Homo sapiens: one gene and its partner. The gene in region 1 interacts genetically with each later gene. Each region holds a gene or a part of one and is shown in the gene's direction. Other genes may lie near its edges. The genes, in order: NLE1 and ATG10.

Region 1 (3,818 bases):
AGCCAATCACTAAAACCCTCTCAGACCCTTCTCCCTTCTAGACCCAGCTCAGAATGTACCTATTCCAAAAAGTTGTTCTTCATAATCCTAGTTTGCAATCCTAAAATACTAATGTGCTAGAGATCATTTTATTTCGTTTTTTGTTTAGTTTATTTGCTTGTCTATTTATTACATTTCCAACATGCTTCTTTTTTACTTTAATTTGTTGTTTAAGATTGTTCACACATTCACGTTCAAAAAATACAAAAGGTAGATCGCGGAGTCTCCCGTCTCTATTGTAGCATCCAGTGCCACCAGTATCCTGAATCACCTTCCAGAGATTTAATATACAGACACGTGTCTATATACAGTATATATGTATAAGCACACACACACATGCATACATACATAAAATCCTTCTTTTAACACATTATTTTGTGCCTTTTTCTGTAATTATGTATCTTAAAATTTTTTTCTACATGCATGTAGAGTTTCTTTTTCCTTTTGGATGAAGTGACTTGCCTGGGGTCACATGCGAGTGAGTGGCCAAGCCAGTCCTCATTGCTCCTAGCGCTGGCCTCTCTCTGTCCCTGGCATTGAGTAATCAGGGTGTATGCTTGCTGCCAAAGTCGGGCCCTCCTCCTTCTTTCTGAGACCACACCCAACACAGTGTGCTTTCTGCCTCCCCTAGGGCCAGGGTCCAGAGAGGCTGGTGTCTGGCTCCGACGACTTCACCTTATTCCTGTGGTCCCCAGCAGAGGACAAAAAGCCTCTCACTCGGATGACAGGACACCAAGCTCTCATCAACCAGGTGCTCTTCTCTCCTGACTCCCGCATCGTGGCTAGTGCCTCCTTTGACAAGTCCATCAAGCTGTGGGATGGCAGGACGGGCAAGTGAGTAGGGGTGGGTACTGCTTCTCTGTAAGGAGTGAATGGTGGGAGGGGCTTGGCACTGCCACTTACTAGCTGTATGGCCTTGGCAGGTGTTTGGATTTTCTAAGCCACTGTTTCCTCTTTGGTAATATGCAGACCCCCTACCTCTCAGCTTTGTTACAAGGTGTTTGTTTGTTTGTTTGTTTTTAGAGATGACTTTCACTCTGTCACCTGGTGTTCAAGTGGCTCGAGTGCAGCGGCACGATCTTGGCTCATTACAACCTCTGCTTCCTGGGTTCAAGTGATTCTCCTGCCTCAGCCTCCCAGGTAGCTGGGATTACAGGCCTCCGCCACCGTGCCTGGCTAATTTTTGTATTTTTAGTTGAGACGGGGTTTCACCATGTTGACTAGGCTGGTCTTGAACTCCTGAGCTCAAGTGATCCAACTGCCTCGGCCTCCCAAAGTGCTGGGATTACAGGTGTGAGCCGCCATGCCCAGCCTAGTTACACGGATTTAATGAGACAGTATGTTTAGGACCCGCACTAAGTGGTCACTAAAAATGCTAGTTCAGGCTGGGCGTGGTGGCTCATGCCCATAATCCCAGGAGTTTGGGAGGCCAAGGCAGGCAGATCACCTGAGTTCAGGAGTTCGAGACTAGCCTGGCCAACATGGCAAAACCCTGTCTCTACTAAAAATACAAAAATTAGCCAGGCATAGTGGCACGTGCCTATAATCCCAGTTACCCCGGAGGCTGAGGCAGGAGAATCATTTGAACTTGGGAGGCAAAGGTTGCAGTGAGTCGAGTTCACACCACTGTACTCCAGCCTGGGCAACAGAGTGATACTGTGTCTCAAAAAAAAAAAAATGCTAGTTTATGTCTTAGGAGAGAAGTGATCTTAGAGCTAGCTGCTGAAGAGGTAGGGCTGTAGCCCTGGAGAAGGTGAAGTGGTGGTAGGTAGGCTTGTGGTACAATTGTTACTTGGCCCTCCTCAAAGTGTGGGCCACAGACCAGCGGCATCAGCATCACCTGGGAGCTTGATAGAAATGCAGAGTCCTGGCCCCAACTCAGACCTTGTGGATCTGATTCTTCATTTTAACAAAGTTACCAGGTGACTCTGCTACCCACTCAAGTATGGGAACCCTTGGTGTGATGAGGCACAGTGCTCTTGGGGTTAATCGGATTAGAGGAGAGGCAAAGGCACAGGCAAGGGGGAGAAAAAGAGCCAGGGAAACCTTGTTAGGGCTGAAGGGGGGACCTCTGCGTTAGTGACGTCACTGTGTTTTCACACAGCAACCCTTTAAGATAGGTAATTGGGTTCCTTTTTAAAATAAGGAAAATGAGTCTCAGAGAGGCCTGATGGTTTGTCCAAAGAGAAACAGCTAGACTGTGTTGACGTGAAAGTTCAGTGGGCCCACTGTTACTCCATGCCACCTGTCAGCAGGCACTTGCTGTTTGGGGGGATGACAGGCAGATGGGCTAAGCAGATGGCCACGTTGGAGTCTAAGGCATGCAAAGTTGTGCAGGTATGGAGGGCAAGCAAGAGGCATGCTAGAAGCTACTCATTTGGAGAAGTTTTACAAATTGTAATGACTGGTAATGATTAAAAATGGTCTGGGATGGGGACCAGGCAGTGTGATTTTGTAAAGGTTCCCAGGTATTTCTAACAGACAGCCGAGGTTGAGAACCACTGCCATGAGCGTAGGGGACCCTTCAGACGTGTTGAAAGATGTAACTCAGACTAAAATCCATCATCGTCTTCTCCTGGACCAGGTACCTGGCTTCCCTACGCGGCCACGTGGCTGCCGTGTACCAGATTGCGTGGTCAGCTGACAGTCGGCTCCTGGTCAGCGGCAGCAGTGACAGCACACTGAAGGTGTGGGATGTGAAGGCCCAGAAGCTGGCCATGGACCTGCCCGGCCACGCGGATGAGGTAGGGCCAACCCTCAGGCAAAGGAGGGACTGGGATTGGAGCCTGGCTGGCTGTCTCCCTCTCACCACCCCACCTGCCTTCCTCTGCCTCCCTTTAGGTATATGCTGTTGACTGGAGTCCAGATGGCCAGAGAGTGGCAAGTGGTGGGAAGGACAAATGCCTCCGGATGTGAGTGTGGGGGAAGTGGTGGTTGGCATACACAGCCCTCCTACCCCTAAGGTCCTTCTGTGCACACTTTCCCTTACAGCATAGAATTCCGCAGGGCCGTCCAGGTGCTCAGACTGTCTTGAGGAGGCGTGTGGAGCCAGATTCTCAGTGGGCAAGTGGGAGGGCCACAAGTGGGAGGGCCACCGGAACAACAGAGGCCACAGGACACCTCGTAGAGGGCGCGTCCAGGTCTTTCTGTCAGTGGGCAAGTGGGAGGGCCACCGGAACAACAGGGGCCACAGGACACCTTGTAGAGGGCGCATCCAGGTCTTTCTGTCACTAGACTTCAGAGTCGCAAGACCTGAGTTCAAATCCTGGTTCTGCCATGGAGTAATCACAGAGAACTTGGTTAATCAGTCTCTTGGGAATTATCAAACCTTCACAGACAGGATCAAAAATAGGAGGGTCAACACTCTGGAAGACAAAGTGTTGTGTGCTTATAAGGGATTGTGACTGTTTGCTGGTGGGCATCCCGAGGGCCAGGCCCTGGGTGGAGGTCCTGGTGGCAGCAGGCAGTGAGTGGGCAGCCTGAGTTTGGGTGGGCAGAGCAGGGACGGTCACCTGGCTCTTGGTGACTCTGAGGGTGGACCACAGGCCGTCCGTCTGTTGACACTGGGATTATATGACGGCCTCCCTTTCCTAAGGTGGAATCCCCATCCTGACACCCTTCCCTTCTCCACAGATGGAGGAGATGAGACGGCCCGAAGTTCTCTCTGACCCCCACCTCGACTCGGCCTCTGCCAGCTGCCTTCCCTGCCAGAGAACAAAGGCTGAGATGGCAGTGCACACACCCTCCCCACCAGTGGGGACCTGAGAATGCGTGTGGCC
Region 2 (3,818 bases), on another chromosome or scaffold:
TCACAAATAGGGAGGTCTGGCATGCTGAACCTGCATTCCCACATGGGACAGTTGGCTGGAGCAGAGTAGCCAGCATGGCCTTGGATGGGTGCACTCGGCAGTTTCTCACGGGCCCCGTCATCTGCTGGTGTATTTAGCTGGCATTATCCCCTTAGGTCACCTGCTTTGTCTTCATAGGTATTTGAGTTTGCAGTGTTGGTATAATGGTTAATCCACAATACAAATAATCAATAAATGTATCATCAATAATAGTGTTTTTGTTGGTAGAACTTGTGCACAGATTACCCACTACATAGAAACCTCCTAGGGCTCCCCATTGCTTGCCAAATGATGTCCACGTCCCTAACTTGGGTATGGTCTGACCTATATCTTATATCCAATTACTACCTTATAAAAGAAACAGAGTTACATTTCAGGCTTTTAACTTATAAAAACAGCCCTGTAGGCTTGGGAGAGACAGAAGGAGAGAAATGAGGAAAAAGAAAAACAAAAACTCAGAGACGGAAAGAGAGAGAGAGACAAACAGAAGTAGAACAATTTAAATAGTGCAGGCCATCTCCTCCCATCCCTGGTTCTACTCGTGGAACATGTGCCCACTGGCACTGGATACATGTAGGCTTGAAACAACATGTTGACAAAATTTGTGTAAAGAAATATGCAAATGATTTTGAGTCTCTTACCATTGACAAAGAGGTGAATAAAATGAATTGTTTAGGTTGTCAAACTACTGAGCTTTGTGAACATCCTTGAAGAAAAACTGAAGAATAATGATAGGCCAAAGAGAAACACTGGCCAACAGAGAGGGAACTGATAAAATGCAACTACAGTTTATATTGTGTAAACAAAAATGGGTGCCCTGCTATACTCGACCATACTGCTTTATCAATGAATAGTCCTTTCTCACCAACTTCTTCTGATGTTTGGATTATAAATTGTTTTTAAAAATAGAAAATAAACCTGTATATTAATTCAATAACTTGGAATTTGAGACAAACCTTTATTTTAAAGGAGTAAACCAGATAAATTATTTTAGCCTTTTCAAAGTAACTCACACTGATCCTGGACCAATTCTGATTCTTACAGGAACATCCAATACTTGGGCAACCCTTTTTTGTACTTCATCCCTGCAAGACGAATGAATTCATGACTCCTGTATTAAAGAATTCTCAGAAAATCAATAAGTAAGAAACACCATCAAGATACATTGGCTTCTACTCTGATTTTAAAAGTGTAAATCTTTTTATGTGACTCTAAATGCTAGGCTAAAAAAGAAATATTAATAATAATAATGGCTAACACAATGATTTTTAGGATATGCTAGATGCTGTTCTAAGAGTTTTAGATACAGTAAGACATTGGATTTTTGCAGCATTCCTATGTGCTAAGTACTATTATTTTGCCCAATTTACAGAGGAGGAAGTTACAGAACAGAGGAGTTAAGCCACTCAAACAAGGTCACACAGCTAGTTAAGTGGTGGGATTTGAATCTAAGCATTTTGGCCTCAGAACCATGCTCTTAATCACTGCACTCTGCTACCTTAGTAAGTGCTGTAAACTGTAAGGGTAAAATTTGAATCATCAAGGGAAGTCAGGAGCCAGTACCTTACCTCATTCTTCAACTACCCTAATGAGGGATCCTTACAGGCTCTCTGGACCTTAAATTCTTGTCAAGCAATGGGGCTGGCATTCAGAAATGCTGAGATTCCAGGTGGTAGGTACAAATCTTTGAAGAAAGCCTCACTTTTGTTATTGTTGGTGACCAACTGATGTTCTACCATTCATCCAAAAACTACAATGGAAACGTTAGCATGGCCTGTATTTCACTTGTTTCCTAGGAATGTCAACTATATCACATCATGGCTGAGCATTGTAGGGCCAGTTGTTGGGCTGAATCTACCTCTGAGTTATGCCAAAGCAACGTCTCAGGATGAACGAAATGTCCCTTAACAAGGTAAAAGAAAAGCCTGGATTTAATGTTTTGCCGTTACAAAGATCAATGTCTCCATTGCATTTAGACTCATCCCACCAAATGCAAAATTTGCTTTCATCTTTAGTGGGCAAACCCTGACTTAATTTTTAGTTTTCCAATCAGTCCCCTACCAAGTTATTTAGGACAGGGATCCCCAAATCCCAGGCCATGGACCGGAACCAGGCCTCACAGCAGGAGGTGAGCGGCAGCTGGGTGGGCAAGCAAGCGAGCATTACCACCTGAGCTCTTCCTCCTATCAGATCAGCTGCAGCATTGGATCTGCATAGGAATGTGAACCCTATTGTGAACTGCGCATCTGAGGGACCTAGGTTGCGCGCTCCTTATGAGATTCTAACCAATGCCTGATGATCTGAGGTGGAACAGTTTCATCCTGAAACCATCTCCCATTCGGTCTGTGAAAATGGTTTTCCCTGAAACTGGTGCCTGGTGCCAAAAAGGTTGGGGGCCACCAATTCAGGAAATATTTTACTTTGCTGTAAGTAGCATGCACTCAGTGACAGGAATGGATAGTTTTATTTTAGTACTGATATTCTTAAATAAGTCTTTACTGCTCAGTTATTTTTCTTTTATTCTCTTGGCTTTTGTTTTATGTTCTTCAGATTCTTCTATTGAGTTTAGGAATTGCGGCACGAAGAATGCCAAGAGTTTACCTGGCCAGCCCTGGCTTTAATAGGACTGATACCATGGAATATTTCATCTCACCAAGATGTGACATGGATTATTTTTCCCTTGGACACAAATGTCTACAGCAACTGGTGTTTGATAGGCTGAATGTTTAGAAGAAACACTTCAAAGGGATACATCATGGCCAGGCATGGTGGCTCACACCTGTAATCCAAGCACTTTGGGAGGCCAAGGTGGGAGCATCACTTGATCCTGGGAGTTCGAGACCAGCCTGGGCAACATGGTGAAACCCTGTCGGTACAAAAAAATACAAAAATTTGCCTGTTTATGGTGGTGTGTTCCTGTAGTCCCAGCTCCCCAGGAGGCTGAGGTGGGAGGTTGGCTTTAACCCAGGAGGCAGAGGTTGCAGTGAGCTGAGACTGTGCCACTGCAGTCCAGCCTGGGTGACAGAGCCAGACACTGTCTCGGGGAAAAAAAAAAAAAAAAAAAGACACATCACTATAAATAGCAAAAAAACAAATCTAACTTATTAATACTAGGAATACCAACATTATTAGGGCACTTGCAGGTTATTCTTTTCTAGGCCAAGTACTTCACTTCCATTTGTCTGACATGGAGATTGAGGGAGAAATGTATTTGTGTGTTCATTTTAATGTAAGATATATAAAAATTAAATTACTGGATTTACCTGTCCCTGAAACTGGTGTTATAAACATGACCTATCTTAAGTGATTTTCCCACAATCAAACTCAGGAACAATAGATTATTTCTGTTTTACTCCAAAAGAGAGAGAGAGAGTGAGTGTGAGTGTGTGTGTGTGTGTGTGTGTATGTGTGGGTGTTTGTGTAGATAGTTGTAAAACAAAGAAAAAACACAATATTTTACTGTGAGATAATATGTTTTACCAGCAAAGTGTGGCATAGTAATTAGAAGTTTTCTAAAAAGCTATAGGAGATATTTAAACATTAAAATTTCTTTTTGACCTATAGTAATAAAACAATGGTCATTTTACCCCTCTGCTTCTCAACCCCACAGCTGCTCTGCTGTACTCTTTGAGGGCTCTTGAGCGAGTCTTCATGTCCCTGAGACTTATTTTCCTCATCTTTAATTTGAAACTAACAAGCTACCTCATAGGGTTGCTGTGAGAACCACATGAGATCATTAATGCATGATAAGATATTGTAAAGTATTATACGAATATTCA

Evidence for each region.
Region 2: of NLE1 (region 1) and ATG10, changing one suppresses a phenotype caused by changing the other (phenotypic suppression), as found in Homo sapiens cells (one large-scale study listed by BioGRID).

The regions. Positions count from the first base shown.
Region 1 is NC_000017.11:35,132,304-35,136,121, reverse strand, and holds part of NLE1 (notchless protein homolog 1), read left to right. Parts: intron 1-670; coding exon 671-873; intron 874-2,623; coding exon 2,624-2,783; intron 2,784-2,880; coding exon 2,881-2,951; intron 2,952-3,672; coding exon 3,673-3,685; 3' UTR 3,686-3,818. UniProt on the Homo sapiens protein: Plays a role in regulating Notch activity. Plays a role in regulating the expression of CDKN1A and several members of the Wnt pathway, probably via its effects on Notch activity. Required during embryogenesis for inner mass cell survival.
Region 2 is NC_000005.10:82,251,479-82,255,296, forward strand, and holds part of ATG10 (ubiquitin-like-conjugating enzyme ATG10), read left to right. Parts: intron 1-1,083; coding exon 1,084-1,181; intron 1,182-1,835; coding exon 1,836-1,947; 3' UTR 1,948-1,951; intron 1,952-2,589; 3' UTR 2,590-3,818. UniProt on the Homo sapiens protein: E2-like enzyme involved in autophagy. Acts as an E2-like enzyme that catalyzes the conjugation of ATG12 to ATG5. ATG12 conjugation to ATG5 is required for autophagy. Likely serves as an ATG5-recognition molecule. Not involved in ATG12 conjugation to ATG3.